2 separate regions of the Homo sapiens genome follow, and region 2 is linked to region 1. The links come from fine-mapping of genetic effects on gene expression. A gene starts in region 1. The other region holds a variant in brackets. All regions are shown on one strand. Distances are from middle to middle.

Region 1 (8,328 bases):
CCTCCTAGCAAGACTCCCTCCACTCCATCCTCCCATAAACAACAAGGTGCAGTCAGTCCTGAAGAAGGCAGGGTATTTCATTCCCCTGGACTTGTTTCTTCACCCAGATACAAGCCTGCCCCCACACTCCTATGGGTCTCAGTTTCACATGTGCCAAATGAGTAGGAGGCAGGCAGAGCAGGAAAGGGGCAGCAAGAGTTGAGGGTCACAGTGGGAACCCATGGAACATGGGCCTGTGCTGGCCGGTGCCCTGGATGCAGAATCCTCCCCTCCCCTTCCCCCACCCACCCCAGCCCAGCCCAGCCCAGCCTAGCCCAGCTGGGTGGACATTCCAGGCCTCACGTGATAAAGACGAGGCCACTGGCCCTCGGGTAAGTCAACAGGCTCTGTCGCGGGAGAGATAGGAGGCCCTGGCCAGGGTCACCTGCTGAGCGGGGAAAACGGCCAGGACCAGATACACACATAAATAAGGCACCAACCCGACAGCCAGCCAGCCAAGGGTCTGTCTTCTGCAGAGGCTCACCTTGGAAAGGGAGGTGGCATGGAGAGGGAGGCCAAGGCTGACTAGGGGCGTCCCTGGGAGAGACCCAGCTACTGCGAGGATGAGGGGTAGGGGGGTTCTACCCAAGTTCCGGGGGCTGGCTGGGAACTCGGAGGCCAATCTCCTTCAGCTGTTCCCATCTCTTCCCAGGGCAAAAATCAAACCATCACCCCCTCTCCCTCCTCCCCAAGGAGAGGACAATTTCCGTTCTGGGAGGGGGGTGACAGCTGCAGAGCGGGCCACTCCCCACCCCCCCAAGCTCCAGCCTGACTCTCATCTAGGGAAACTGCTAAATCAACAATACGCAGTTACGGGTAGGTAGCCCGCCGGCCTGAGTTTCCCCGCACGGCTCTCAGAAAGGGGTTTAGAGGGGGCTTCGGTCTCAGTTCCCGGTTTTCTAGTGGCGGTTGGAAACCAAGGCACGGGCATCTTTCAGGAGGGGGATCAGGTGAAGCTTAGGCCAGTAGGTCCCCCAAGACGTCTAATTTAAATACTCCCAACTGCAAAGGACAGACGCCCCCCACCCCGCGGCCTGGGGCAGCTGAGGTGGAGCCGGGCGTTCAAATCGCGCTCCAAACAAGTCCGCAGCGACCGCGCTCGCAGCCCCCGCCAGGCGGCCCCAGCGGAAAACTTGAAAGGGACTCTGTTTGCCGGCGGCCCTGGGGCGGCTCCGGCGGGGGCGAGGGCCGAGCGATCTCACACACGCCCCCTCCCCAACGCTTCCAAAGAAAATGCGGGGGTGGGGGGGACAGGGCCCACCACAAATCCAAGGGCTCCAAACAGCGCCCGCCGCGCGAGGAAAGGTGGGGGTCAGGAGTCTGGTCCGCTGGTCACCCCCTTAGCTCCCCCCCCATCCGAAGGCGCGACTCTCAGACCACCCAAAGTCCAGGGGGCAAAGGAGGGCGCGGTTGCCAAACCTTCAGACCCCCGTCGCGGGAGACTTCAGGGAGCGGGTCTTTCCGAATGAGTCACTACAGAACCCCCCAAATTTACTGGTGCTTCCTTGCAGCCCGAGGCACCAGCCCAACTCCGCGCACCCCTTCAGATTCCCGGGGGGGAAAAAAGAACAAAAAGAGATCTTGCTCCCACTTTGGGCGTTTCAGCTCTTCTGACAGGTCCCGAAGGTGGCCCCCCATTTAAAAACCGGGGTCACTCGCTTTCCGTCGATCCTACAAATAAACAAAGCCAGGCGCACCCCGCGCTCCCCGCCGGAAAGCAGCCCATTCCGGGCGAGGACAACTTCCCCCAGCCAGAAAATTAACACATTCCTCTCGCGGCGGTTCAGCCCCTCACTCCGCTCCGGGGAAGCGAAGGGGAGGGGGGTCGGGCCGAACTTCATGGGTAAATTTGGGGCCAGTGCAGCGTGGCAGGCGCCGGGGACGTACGCCCCCCACAGTTCCGCAGCTAGAGGAACACCCCCATTCTCCCTCCCAGGCTCTGCACGCTGCGTGGCCCACGCGGGGCTCGGGAGACAGCTCAAAAGACTCCCCAAGGCTGGGAAAGGAGGGAGGGAGGGGCCGCGGGGCACCGTGGTGGTGGGGGAGATACTTTGATGGAAAAAAAAGGTCAAACTTCATCAGCCCGCCGGGCACCCCGCGGGCAGCGGGGGCGAGGAGCCGGAGGAAAAATGCAGAAGTAGCCGCCGCTTCTTCCAAGTGGTGGGGGAGGCTCAGCCACGCGTGGTCGAGGGCGCCCAGAGCAGTTAACGTCGCCCCTCAACACAGGGCTGCGAGCGGGGTCTGATGGGGGGAGTGCGCGCCAGAGATCTACAAGCAGCCGCCCCCGCAGGCTGAGCGCCCGCCCAACGCCAAGAGGTGAGGACCCCGGGCGCCCGCTGCCCCAGCGCCCGCGAACTGGAGTAGTGGGGGGGAGGGGGGCGGCACCCCGCAAGGAGCGTCCCAGCCCCACTCCACGGCGCCCAAGCCGCCGTCCCAGACCCTAAAACCCCTCTTTTTGTCTGAACTCAGTGATCTGCGACCGAGCATACTGCGGCTTAGGGAGGCTTGGGTATAGCAGCGGCCACCAAGCGATCACCGGCGCTAGGTCTCCCAGGCTCCGGGGCTCCGCGGCTTACGGTGCGGGCGCCCCCCGCCCCTCCCAAATACGGACCCCTCCTTCCCCGTCCCCGGCTCTCCGCACCTGAACTTCGGGGGAACCCGCGCAGCCAAACTTTCCGCCGACTTGCAGCGAACTCCGGCCCCGGCCGCGCACCGAACCCCGGGGGAGGAGAGGGAGGTAGGCGGGGAAGGGGAGGGGGCCGGCCTCCGGGGGGGGTCGAGGGAGGGCCGTGGCCCGACACCTACCGGCTCTCCGAGTCGTCCAAGCCGCCACCGCCGCCGTCGCCGCGAGGCCGAGGGGGAGGGGCGGGGCAGGGAGCTGCGCTCCGCTCTGGGCACCACCGCCGCGGTGCGCTCCGCTCCAGCCGCCAGCAGTGCCCGGGTCCGGAGCCCGAGTCGCGCCGCCGCGGCTGGCCCGAGGCGGGGAGGGGGGGGAGCCTGCAGCACCTGCCCCTCCTCCCCCTCCCCGCGGCCCAAATTAAAAAACAACAAAAAGCAACTAATCACCCCCGAGCTGAGCGCGGCTCGCGGGCGGAGGGCTCAGCGTGCGGCGCCCGGACTCAGCAGGCGGCGCGCATGGCTGGGCGCGGGCTGGGCAGGGCTGGGACGCGGGGCCCGGCTTCAGGGGATAAGGCTCTGCCGCTCTTCTCGCTCGGCTCGGGCGTCTGCTCTTGCCGCCAGTGCCGCCTCTGCTGCCGCCGCCTCTACATCCCCGCTCAGGCTCAGCCGCCTCTGCCGCCGCCGCCGCGCGCCCGCCCGGGCAGGAGCTATGAACGCTGCCCGGGGGCTGCCGGCAAAACCCGGACCGGACTCGCCGCTCCCTCCTCCCCCCAACCCCCTCCACCTCGGCTCCCCTCCCTCCTCCCGCCGCCTCCCTCCCAGCGCAGCTCGGGCCACTTGGACGCCGCGGGCTCTGAGGCCGGAGCTGCAGCCGCTGCGCCTCGAGCTCCCCGCGCCCTGACGCGGTCCACCCAGGCTCAGCTCCCTTGCGCGCCCCGTCTTCGCCTATTTCCCGCAACTTTACAAAAAAAAAAAAAAAAGGACGACCTCCCCGCTTTGGTGAGGCGGTCTGGGTTTAGAGACGCACCTCCGGGGAAATCTGCTATCTTTCTGCCCCCTCTAGAGCGGGGCCAGAAGCTTCGAGGACCGGGAGGGAGAATTTGGCCGCGCCCCCCAGCTCAGGTGCGCGGCGGGCCAGAGATTCCTAGTCGAGGGTCCTGGGAGGTAGACGCGTGTTCCAAGACCCCACCCTTCCAAGAGCTCCTTAATGGATTCAGTGGGCACTAGGGCCCCGGGAGAAAAGGGGCGGAGATTCCCGTTCCCATTTCTCAGGTGAGGAAACTGATCCGAGAAAGGATATTTTATCTCTCAGGCAGGCATCAGCCTCAACTCTTGAGTCCCGGGGCTAAAACGACTACGTACATTTGGTGCCCTGAGACCATGGCCTACGCACTCAAAACCCGAAACAATGCTTGGAACAGCAGCGCTCAATAGGTACTGATTGAAAGACAGAAGGAAAACTCAGCCTTGCCAGAGTAGGCGCCCAGTGGGGACAGAGTTGGGCCCGCATATCCCGCTTTCACTCCATCAGTGGCCTCCATATGCCCATCTTAGGCTAATTAATCCTGCTGCTGCAGATGTCTTCACCTCACGTACCCATGGTGCAAGCCCCGGGCTCATATAATCCCAACTGCATATAATCCCAAAGTGGAAGTTTTCTCCAATTCTTTGGGATTCGTGGGGGCGGATTTGTGCAAGGCCGACCTTCCTCTGCGAGGCGAAGAAAACGCAGTCCCCAGACCCAAGCAGGGGAGGGAGAGGGGGAGGGCGGTTGGGGAAGTCAGCCTAGGGTTAAACGTTACAGCCTGAGATCGATTGGGGCCCAGATAACAGGGAGTTAACTGTGGCGATCCGGGCGCCTGCAGCCACAGGCGCGGCCTCGGTGGGAGAAGCGAAACTGTCTCCCACCTCGCTGCTTCCTCTCCTCTGCTCTGCGCAGCCTGGCTGTCTCCGAGGCTGGCGCGAGGGCTTATGGAGCATGGATCTCCTGGCAGCAGCAGCTGGTGCCCACCTTCCACGCCTTCTATATGTGGCCTTGGGGCCTTGACCCAGCCGGGGTGGGGTGGGGGGAGGTGTCAAAGGGCAGAGCTCATCTGGAATGTGTTGCCTCTCTGCCACTCCTGATATCCAAGACCACACGAAGTGACCCCTCCCCAGACATCGTGGACACCTGCTCCCAACCAGTTCCTTCCGAATGCTGAGAAGTGGTCTCCCTTAACTACTATGCCAAGAAATGGCTCCCTTGGGGAGGCGTTTAGTCTCTCTCCTCCTTGCCAGCAGTCCTTTTAATGCCCCCCTCCAAACAAACATCCCATGTGAGTAAAAGTAAGGTGCTTGCTATGGAAACCGTTTTAAGACGCCCATCACCCCCAGAAGATCACTTCCAAACTGCTTAAAGATAGGTATGCTGGGCCTCAGTGTGAATGTCAGGCACTGTGTTGGGCACTGACCGTGCAAGGAAAAAGGAAGCAAAAGCCCAGGTGTAGGATCTCCAAGCATTTAACTCACCTCCATCTACCTTTTCTGGGGAAGCTGAGGCACAGACTGTGAGGGAGGACCTGCTCCCTGGGAGTCAGCAGCAGGTCTCAGAGGGTTAGGATCCATGAAGTCAAACTCTATTCCACAGATCTCCTGAAGCCTAACGCCAGTACAGAGTCAGGTCATGCACGCCCCACAAAAAGCTTTATGCTGGGGTCCATGGCAGAGGGTGGGTAGTAATTCTACTTTAGGGAACTGCTGACTATTACCCACTTTTTTTTCAGACTTATGCCTCCACCCCCACCCCCAACTCAGGCGGGAGGCCAGGGATCCACAGGCTGCAATGGAGGAAGGCCAGGTGGTCCCAGTGGTGATGGCTTCCTCAGGGAAGGGGTGTTGACTTGTCTGGCCCAGTTTAGGGGGTGGATCTTGGAGTTTTCCCTTGCTGGAAATTAACACCTTGGGAGGGAGACCTAGACTGTCACCTATCCAACCCATATGGGAGCCACAGAGGAAAAGGACAGAATTGTCCACACAGAAAGTGTTACAGAAACAGAAAATGTCATGTGCAAGCCATCCACAAAGAACTCTCCACCACAGATGCCAATGAGACAAGCGGGGGACATCCAGGAAGGATGGGGTGAGGATCTCTGCCCTTGGGTGAGACTGTCCCCACCACAGCCCCCTTCCCCAAGAAGAAGGGAAGCTTGGTTCACTATTCTCCCACCTCTGCCTACCTCAAAAAGGAGAATTGAAGTCTCACCTTGCTATTAAACTTTTTGCTGAGTTTTTTGAACCAATCAGCCTTCAAGTCAGGAAGAAGCTCCTTCAGTCTCCAGCACCGCTGGGGGAGATGGCCCCTGCATCACCAGCCTTGTCTTCTAGGGAGGGGTGCGTCCACCCGGGACCCTGGAGTGTGCTCTCCTGGATCCTGCTGATAATACCCATGGCTGGTATTTGTGCAGCCCTTACCCTGAGCAGGGCATTGTGCTAAACAGTTAAGGTACATTATCTTATTTAGCCCTTATAGCAGCCCCTGCAATAATGTCATCCCCATTATTCAGATGAGGAAACTGAAATGAGATTGGCATCAGAGCTGTTCTCAAACCCCTGAGGCCATGTGCTATTCTAGGGAGGCTTTCCACAGCCTCCAGTGAGGCTCATCTGCTTCACATCCTGCAGTGGTTCCTCACAGACTACCCTACTCAGCCTGGCTTCCCTAACTGACTCTCTTCCCTGCCAGGCCCTGCTGACCAATGCCATCTAACACTGGCAGTTCCCTCTGACACCCCAAGACTCCTCTCCAGATTTCCAGAGCTTTGCATGTACCATTCCCTCTGCCAAGATAGGCCTCATCAAGCTCACCTCATGAACTCCTCATGGAAGACCAGGAGCACATATCACCTGGGAACCATCTCAGACTGCCACTTCCAGCCTGAGTTTGGGCCATACCTACAGGGCCACCACTAGCCTTTGTGCAAATCAGAAAAAGGTACCCACTTTTGGCAGATACAGGAAACCATGAAGGAGGTCACAGACTGCCTTTCAGCTTCCTAGCTCCCTTTGCTAGGTGCCTTTTTGCAGTGCATGCACAGGACAGATGTACTCTGTGGCCTGGCTTTGGGTCCTTCATCTGGCTTTGGGACCCCTCCTATGGCCACAGTGACCACAATGCACAGAAATAGCTTTTATTTGCTCATCTCACTACTTGTCCCCTCGCCACCACCTCCCGCCATGAAAATTCTTTGAAGGTAAGGAGGAGTCCCCTACCTGCCTTGGGCCCGAAGCTTGGCCTCCAAAGAGGTACCAGTAATAACAATTGTAGCCAGAATCTTTCTGAGCTCTTGCTTGTCAGGGACCATGCTAATTGCTTTTTGAACATAGGCTTATTAAATCCACAGGCTTGGACACCTGTGTGAGGTTACAAAGTAGCAAAACCAGGATTTCAATCCATGCCTTGTCTGAGGCATTTTCCATGACTGCCATTTATCTGCTAATATCTGTCATTGATTAAACATCCAGTGACTGGAAATGGCCACATGGAGAGGAGTGTGGGAGTTAGGATCTCCAATAAAGATGGCCAATTTGGAACTCAGTCTAAGGTTTACCCTTCTTTGGGCCCCAGTTCTGTCACCTGTATCACAAAGGATGGGAGCAAAGGCATTTGAAACCCTGCCTGCTGGGGCAGGGCACAGGATAGTGTTCAGTGGGGTCATGCTGGACTGTGACCTCAGCCAAAATCCCAGGGCAGGCCTGGGGGTGCAAACACGGGCAGAGGCAGGGAGGAGCCTAACCGCACCAGACTGTGGCCCCGGGCCTTTGGGTCTGGGCCCTCACGCACTGACCACTGGACTTTAGGTCCTCCCCACCCCACCCCCATGACGTCTGAAGGAGCAGAGAGCTGTGAAATGAAAATTCAAAAAGCCAAGTCTCTCAAGTAACCCAGGCTTGCCCATTCCTGAGAAGTCAGTTTGGTGGCCAATGCCTGGCCTTGACCTGTGTAAACAGAGGGGAAGGGATGAGGACAGAAGGAAGACTCCAGTCCCAGAACAAAATGACTCTGGGGACAGAGGCTGAGAGAAAGCAGGAAGCAAGCTATATTTCCCATTGCCCAGGCACAGCTACATACACGCCATAGACAACCAGATACAGCCCTGTTCTCAGTGAGGCACAGGGAACTCAGCCTGTATATGGGATATTGATGGGGAGAGGGACAGTTTGGGGGCTGTTGTGCCCCTGACAATAACCCTTGGCTTCTCTAGACACAATCATGGTTCAACTCTGTCCTATGGGAGTGGGACTGAGTGCTCCCAGAGGCCAAAGCTGTGGCTCCAGCCTCCCTGCCACACTTCAGGAAGAGGGAGGGAGAGCATTGCTGAGAGGTGGGGAGGTAACTGAATGGGGCCTTAGGGGAGGCAGAGGCACAGTGTCCCAATCTGGAGCCCTGCACCTGGAGGAGGGGTGCCCTGGGCAGGAGAAGCCAGCCTGCCCTGAAAGTGCCCTGCCCGACCCAAAGCCTGAAGGCTAGGGTGTGGTGGTGTGGGGGAGGCCTGCTGGAGGAGGCAGGGTGGGGCTCAGCCTCCTCTCTACAAATCTGGTCCTGGAGGGCAGTGCAGGGTCAGAAATGGCCCGCACTGAGACTTCCGAAAATGGCCCAGCCTCTTTCTCTTCAGACCTGGGGCCCCAAGACCC
Region 2 (8,328 bases), 75 kb after region 1:
CACACAGAGAAGGTGATACAAAGATGGAGGCAGATGCTGGAGTGATGTAGCCACAAACCAAAGGAGCCAAGGAATGCTGACATCCACCAAAGTTGGAAGAGGCAAGGAAGGATTCTCCCCTAGAACATCCAGAGTATGGACCTGAAGACAGACTGACTTTAGACTGCTGGCCTCCAGAACTGTGAGAGAATATAGTTCTGTTACTTTAAGCCACCCGGTTTGTGGTAATTTATTATGGCAACCCTAGGAAACTAATACAGATGGTATAAATATGTAAACATTTAATCTAAAGAAAATCACGCACTCCATTAGTGTGCTATTATTTTAAGAAATCTAAAACTCCTACCATTGAGGCTTTTGTAAAAATCAACTTTGATTTCAAGGCTTGTCTTGTTTTGAGTCAGGATCTCGCTCTGTCACCTAGGCTGGAGTGCAGTGCAGATTATAGCTCACTGCCGCCTTGAACTCTGGGCCTCAAGAGATCCTCCTCTTCCACCTCAGTCTTCCCAGTAGCTATGACTACAGGCGTGTGCCACCAAACCTGGCTAAGTTTTGCAGTTTTTGTAGAGAAGGGGTCTTGCTGAATTGCTCAGGCTGGTCTCCCAGCCAAGTGATTCTCCCACCTTGGCCTCCCAAAGCACTGAGATTATAGGCATGAGCCACTGTACCCAGCTAATTTCAAAGTTTTTCCCTGACATAAGCCCTTAAGAATTTAGCAAAGCAATTCTATCACTTATATTGGCATGATGCATTACAGGTGGTGGGGTTAGTGCTCAAAGGATAGCAGCAGACACTTCTATAATAAGATGTTTAAGAGAATTGATTTCACAATTCTAGACCTACAAAAATATCACATGTATTAAAAACATATTAAGGTGACAGTATTTTGAAGTTTGCTGAAGAATACTGGGATTCAATCCCTTTTTTAGTTTAGAAATATTATAAGACTTCATTCTTTTCACATTCAGGTTTTTCTTTTTTTGCTTGGGGTGACGATGAAGTAAAAGTGAAACATATATTTAACACTGACACCTAAGATTTTGAGATTATACCAATTCCGTAGGTCAACATTATTGGCATGTTAAGACACCATGATAATATTTAAAAACTTAAAAAAAGAAAAGTCCACCAAATCTAAGAAGCCCCTTTCCTCTGTAATGTCCCTCTAGTGCCCTCTATTGACAAAGCCCAACATGTTGTTCACTGCAAAGGTGAAAGAGTCCAGCTCTTCACCAGCTGAAATACATACTTCAGAAGTTATTTAGTCAAAGCAGAGCAAGTACGGGAGGGTGAACTTGGAGCCAACTAATAAACTGCTAAGTGGCAGGGTTGTTTCACTATTTGTTCCTTTTTATTGGTGGGTAATGCTCCATCCAGTATATGGATTTTCTACATTTTGTTTACATATTCAGCTAATGATGGATATCTGAGTTGTTTCTAAGTATCGGGTACTGTGAATAAAACTGCCAAGCACATTTGTAAAAAATAACAACAAAATTATCTTTTATGTAGTCCAAAATGCTAAACCCTCTTCTATCTAATCTTCCCCACAGGCTTGCAGGGTACAATTCCCATTCTACAGACAAGGAAGCTGAGGCTCAGGAAAATTCGCAAAGTGACTTGCCTAAGGCCACAAATGCTCCAAAATTCCACCTTTTCTTTTCTTTTTTTTTTTTTTTTTTGCCACCCCACCTGATATTGGCATTCACTGAATGTTGTTGGCAAACACAGAATACCATGCTTTAGGTACTAGGAATACGAAGAATAAGACAAGAACTTTGCCCAGGAGAGTTCAGTCTAAATAGGGGAATAATCAATCATGTCTACACACTAAGAAACGATTCTACAGTTGAACTCTGACTGCCTGTATGCCTCATGCATGCTTCCTAGAGAAGCCATTTCTGCTGGGTCCCCAAGTATGAATAAAGAATTTAGGAGGTAGGGGATGGGGTGAGAAGAGATTCTCTGTATAAGCAAAGGCACTGAACAAAGACCGGAGAACATGATTCTAGGAAGGACCAACTACAAGCGTTACAACTACAGCAGCATTCCCCAGGAGATACTAATTACTAATATGTATTATAGTAATAAAGACAGTAATATTTTTCTTCTAAATTTTACTTTTTTTTTTTTTTTTGAGACAGAGTTTCACTCTCGTTGCCCAGGCTGGAGTGCAGTGTGCAATCTCAGCTCACTGCAACCTCCGCCTCCCAGGTTCAAGCAATTCTCCTGACTCAGCCTCCTGAGTGGCTGGGATTACAGGCCCCCACCACCACGCCATAGCACTCCAGCCTGGGCAACAAGAACGAAACTTCGTCTCAAAAAAAAAAAAGAGAGAAGTTATTTAATCGAAGCTTATTATATATTAAATATTTCAAGTGTACTCATTCCCAATTGACTTATATCTAGGAGAGAGACATTTTTTATTATTTATTTATTTATTTATTTAGAGACAGTCTCGCTCTGTCGCCCAGGCTGGAGCGCAGTGGCGTGATCTCAGCTCACTGCAAGCTCCGCTTCCCGAGTTCAAGCCATTCTCCTGCCTCAGCCTCTCAAGTAGCTGGGATTACAGGCACCCGCCACCACACCTGGCTAATTTTTTTTGTATTTTTAGTGGAGATGGGGTTTCCCCGTGTTAGCCAGGATGGTCTCGATCTCTTGACCTCGTGATTCGCCCGCCTCAGCCTCCCAAAGTGCTGGGATTACAAGCTTGAGCCACTGCGCCCGGCCGAGAAAGACATTTTAAATGGAAAGCAGAGTCCTTTGATTCCTAAGCCCAAGTAGTCGTATTATTTCAAAATAAACACAAGCAAAGAACAGGCATTTTTCAGAAAAATTAGGGTGACCTATCCATGATGGGATAATTAATAATGTCAGCAGCAGCCTAACTGCAAAATATGCAGTCTGTATTCTTTCTTTTGCTACAATGTATCTGTTGGAAACAAATTTTCATATTATACTGCAATGAAAACAATATACAGTAAGACATTTAAAGGAGTACCTGATGAGGATGACTTTTATTATGTAAGAAAAATACTATTCTTAAAACTGATAGCAAAATAAGAATGACAGATGTTTCATCTTGATAGTACTTTTTTTTTTTTCTTTTTTTTTTTGAGATGGAGTTTCGCTCTGTCGTCCAGGCTGGAGTACAGTGGTGCGATCTCGGCTCACTGCAAGTTCCGCCTCCCAGGTTCACGCCATTGTCCTGCCTCAGCCTCCTGAGTAGCTGGGACTACAGGTGCCCACCACCACGTCTGGCTAATTTTTTTGTATTTTTAGTGGAGATGGGGTTTCACCATGTTAGCCAGGATGGTCTCGATCTCCTGACCTCATGATCTGCCCGTCTCGGCCTCCCAAAGAGCTGGGATTACAGGCATGAGCCACCGCGCCCAGCCTCATCTTGATAATTCTTAATAATTCTGTTTGTGACATTATTTTGATTATATATTTTAATTAATTTATCTGAGATCAGGTGGGGCATGGTGGCTCACACCTGCAATCCCAGCACATTGAAAGGCTTAGGCGGGTGGATCACTTGAGGCCAGGAGTTCAAGACCAGCCTGGTCAACATGGTGAAACCTGCTAAAAATACAAAAATCAGCCAGGCACGGTGGTGCATGCCTGTAATCCCAGCTTCTTTTCTTGGGAGGCTGAGGCAGGAGAATTGCTTGGGCCTGAGAGGCGGAGGTTGCAGTGAGCTGAGATCACGCCATTGCACTACAGCCTGGGCAACAGAGCAAGTCTCTGTCTCAAAAAAAAAAAAAAAAGAATAATAATTAATTTATCTGAGGTAATTTGTGCTGTCAATTTTTTTTTTTAAGAGACAGATCTCGCTCTGTGGCCCAAGCTGGAGTGCACTGGCATGATCACAGCTCACTGCAGCCTTAAACTCCTGGGCTCAAGC[G/A]ATCCTCCTGTCTTGGCCTTTTGAGTAGCAGGGATTACAGGCACATGCCACTGCACCTAGCTAATTTAATTTTTTGTAGACACAGGGTCTTGCTATATTGCACAGGCTGGTATTGAACTCCTGAGCTCAAGTGATCCTCCTGCCTTGGCTTCCCAAAGTGCTGGGATTACAGGCATGAGCCACCATATCCAGCCAGTGCTCTCAATTTTAATACAAGTATGCATGATTTCATACACTTTGGCTTGTACTCCATCAACAATACTACTTTGATAAGCATTCTAATAAAGTTGGGAAACACCAGATATGAGGAAGAAGAAAGCAGTTTATCAGAAGCCAAAGGAACTGAATGAAAATCATGTCAACTATTACGAAAGTTAAATAAAAACTTAGGTATCCACTGAATGTGGCAATTAAGTAATCATTAGTGACCTTACTAAATAGTTCCAGAACAGTGAATAGACTATTCTTTCAAGAATTCTGGGACTGAAATGTCAGAGATGGGAAGGATAAAGATGAGGAAGGAAGTAGCTCTTATGGAAGAGGGAAGTTTAAAAAGTTATTTTACTGCTTTTTTTTTTTTTATAGGGGAAAACCTTCGATAAGTTTGGATGCTAAGAGGAGTTAGTGGAGAAGAGATTGGAAGTATGAAAACAAAGACAATTACCGGAGAGCAAAAACAAGAAAAGGAAAAAGGAAGGAAGGAGGGAGGAAGTGAGTGAGGGAAGGAGGAAGTGAGGGAGGGAGGGAGAGAAGGAAGGAAAGAGGGAAAGAGAGAGAGAGAAAAGGATGGAAAGCAAAAGTTAAGTTTGGCAAAGGGAAAAGTAAAGCTTCTCTAGAGATTAGAGGGGAGAAGGGCTATGACTAAAACAAGTAAATCTGGAGACACAATAGCTCTACAGTCAAGATCGCCTGTATCTGAATCCTAGTTCTTCCTACCATAACCATATAATGTTAGGCAAGTTTATTTCTCCCACTGTTTCCTTATCTAACCTGGGGAGAACAGAATTATTGAAAGATTATTGAAAAGATCAAGTAATTCCTGATGCACAGTGAGTACTCTAAAGTGGATAGCTGAAATCTGTGTTTGTTTTTTTTTTTTTTTTTGAGAGGGAGTCTTGCTCTGTCGCCCAGACTAGAGTACAGTGGCACGACCTCGGCACACTGCAACCTCCGCCTCTTGGGTTCAAGTGATTCTCCTGCCTCAGCCTCCCAAGTAGCTGGGATTACAGGTGCCCACCACTGTGCCTGGCTAATTTTTGTATTTTTAGTAGAGATGGGGTTTCACCATGTTGGCCAGGATGGTCTCGATCTCCTGACCTCACGATCCACCCGCCTCGGCCTCCCAAAGTGCTGGGATTACAGGCATGAGCCACCGCGCCCAGCCGATCTGTTGTTTTAATACCTTGAAGGAAATCCCTAACAACTCACACGTAAGATTTATATTTTCTCTGCAGAACAGGTACTCTGTTCATCTGCTGAGATTAAAATAATGTTTAAGGTGGAAGGACAGTGGTTTTTAGTCTTTTTAGAGATTAAAAACCCATTTGAGGCTGCTCTGCCTAGGGAGTAGCCATTCTTTATTCCTTTACTTTCCTAATAAACTTGCTTTCACTTAAAAAACAAAATCCATTTGACTCTGATGAAAGATATATGCAGAAAGCCGGGGGTGGTGGCTCATGCCTGTAATCCCAACACTTTGGGAGGCCAAGGCAGGTGGATCACTTGAGGTCAGGAGTTCCAAACCAGCCGAGGTGGGTGGATCACGAGGTCAGGAGATCGAGACCATCCTGGCTAACATAGTGAGACCCCATCTCTACTAAAAATACAAAAAATTAGCTGGGCATCATGGCACGCGCCTGTAGTCTCAGCTACTCTGGAGGCTGAAGCTGGAGAATTGCTTGAACTCAGGAGGCAGAGGTTGCAGTGAGCCGAGATCACACAACTGCACTCCAGCCTGGGCGTCAGAGCTAGACTCCATCTCAAATAAAAACAAAAAACAAAAATTAGCCGGGCGTGGTGGCATGCACCTGTGGTCCCAGCAACTTGGGAGGCTGAGGCAGGAGAATCTCTTGAACCTGGGAGGCAGAGGTTGCGGTGAGCCGAGATTGCACAACTGCACTTCAGCCTGGGCGACAGAGGTAGAGACTCCGTTTCGGGGGAAAAAAAGGCGGGGTGGTGGTGGTGGTGAGAATAGAACACCAAATTTGCAATAGTTGTTTTGTTGTTGTTGTTGTTGTTTTGACACAGAATCTGGCTCTGCTGCCCAGGCTGGAGTGCAGTGGTATGATCACAGCTCACCGTAGCCTTAACCTTTCATCCAGGCTCAAGTGATCCTCCTGTCTCAGCCTCCTGAGTAGCTAGGACTACAGGCACACATCACCATGCCCAGCTAATTTTGTTTCACTTTGTTTCGCTTTTGTAGAGACAGGGTCTCCCATTACAGACCAAGCTGGTCTTGAACTCCTAGGTACAAGCAATCCTCCCACCTTGGCCTCCCAGTGTTGGGATTACAGGCATGAGCCACTGTGTCAAGCCTAAATTTGCAGTTTCAAGCAGTATGAGCAACCTTGCCAATCATATAAAGGGAAGTTGAGGAAGATCTTCAGGTTCCAGGACACAGTTTAAATATCCAATTGTTTGAACAAAAGAAAAAAGGCTGCATCCTCTGGATTTATATACCTAACAGCTATGTAAGGATAACACATGGCTTGCCAGAAAATACACTGGACAGTCCAGAAATCCAGGTTCTCAATTCAGACCTACTCTTACCTGGTAGGTCACACGGCCTTTCCAGACAGCAGCCCTGAGATGTGCTGCAGTGCTAACATTTTATGATTCTATTACCCAAAATCTCACTTGACTCTGCAGACAGAAGAACAAACACTACTTTATTTCCCTATATTATAGTTTAACATGATTTTGAAGGTTTGCCTGGAAATCTAACCATCAAAACTTTATTTCTACAGACAAAACAAGTGTGTTTCTGCATTTCTGGGATGAGGCTGCAAAGGTTCCTGGTAGCATGAGGCATGAGTCAGATACTCCTATCCTGGGAACTGCCTAGGATATTTTAAGAGAAATATACAGAATTGGACCTTGTCAAAACCTCTTCCTTGTCAGTCATCAGTACAGTAATATACACTGGGAGACTTCAGAGAAAACCTAGATTTATTAACAGTTATCCTCGATGGCTGTTTGAATTATATTTAAATAACAATCTAGTAGAGCCAAAGAAAGTGCCTTAATTCAATGATCTTTTGTAAAGGAAATAAAAAATACTTTTTTAGTGGGGAAAAAAAAATTCCCAGAACTTATGTGAAGAAGCTCACCTTTTGGAGTAAGAAGGTATCCAAGATAGAACTATCCAAGATAGAACTAATTTAAATAGCCATATTCAGACAACCATTTATTAAAGTTCCCAATACTCCACAGGACTACCTGTTAATTCATCATTTTGATAGGAATTCAATCAGTCCTTACCTCTAATATTAATCTAATATATGGTACCACACCTCTAGTACAGTATTTTTTTTTCTTTTTTGAGACGGAGTCTTGCTCTGTTGCCCAAGCTGGACTGCAGTGGTGCGATCTCAGCTCACCACAACCTCCACCTCCCGGGTTCAAGCAACTCTCTGCCTTAGCCTCCCCAGTAACTGGGATCACAGGTGCTCACCACCATGCCCGGCTAATTTTTATATTTTTAGTAGAGACAGGGTTTCACCATCTTGACTAGGCTGGTATTGAACTCCTGACCTCGTGATCCACTCACCTCGGCATCCCAAAATGCTGGGATTACAGGCGTGAGTCACCGCGCCCGGCCTACAGTATTTTTTATTTTCATTTTTTTCTTTTTCTAGACAGAGTTTCGCTCTGTCGCCCAGGCTAGAATGCAGCGGCGCGATCTCCACTTACTGCAAGCTCTGCCTCCCGGTTCACGCCATTCTCCTGCCTCAGTCTCCCGAATAGCTGGGACTACAGGCACCTGCCACCACACTGACTAATTTTTTGTATTTTTAGTAGAGATGGGGTTTCACCGTGTTAGCCAGGATGGTCTCGATTTCCTGACCTTGTGATCCACCTGTCTTGGCCTCCCAAAGTGCTGGGATTACAGGCATGAGCCACAGCGCCCAGCCCGGCCTACAGTATTTTTAAGCAATTTTTTTTTTTTTGAGATGGAGTCTCGCTGTTGCAAAGGCTGGAGTGCAGTGGCGAGATCTTGGCTCACTGCAACCTCTGCCTCCCAGGTTCAAGCAACTCTCCTGCCTCAGCCTCCTGAGTAGCTGGGATTACAGGTGAGTGCCACCACACCTGGCTAATTTTTGTATTTTTAGTAGAGACAGGGTTTCACCATATTGGGCAGGCTGGTCTCGAACTCCTGACCTCAGGTGGTCGGCCCGCCTCAGCCTCCCAAAGTACTGGGG

What was found. PIP is the estimated chance that this variant, and not a neighbour inherited with it, causes the effect. A credible set is the group of variants that fine-mapping cannot tell apart.
Region 2: its variant is the best candidate, but not a certain one, in a credible set for the expression of CXXC5 in whole blood (INTERVAL, PIP 0.81).

The regions. Positions count from the first base shown.
Region 1 is chr5:139,643,362-139,651,689 of GRCh38, reverse strand. CXXC5 (CXXC finger protein 5) reads right to left here and starts at 3,341. Exons shown (of 3, transcript NM_016463.9): 1 at 2,845-3,341. It overlaps CXXC5-AS1 (CXXC5 antisense RNA 1), which reads left to right and starts at 1,962. Exons shown (of 2, transcript NR_149086.1): 1 at 1,962-2,355; 2 at 2,509-2,691. RefSeq lists an enhancer at 621-1,121 and silencers at 1,914-2,083, 2,284-3,413.
Region 2 is chr5:139,568,090-139,576,417 of GRCh38, reverse strand. The region is part of intron 1 of UBE2D2 (ubiquitin conjugating enzyme E2 D2); the gene reads right to left. Among named protein-coding and RNA genes, the nearest start is that of UBE2D2, 11 kb to the right of the region's middle. RefSeq lists enhancers at 541-670, 7,919-8,328. The variant G/A (reference allele first, on the strand shown) is at 3,908.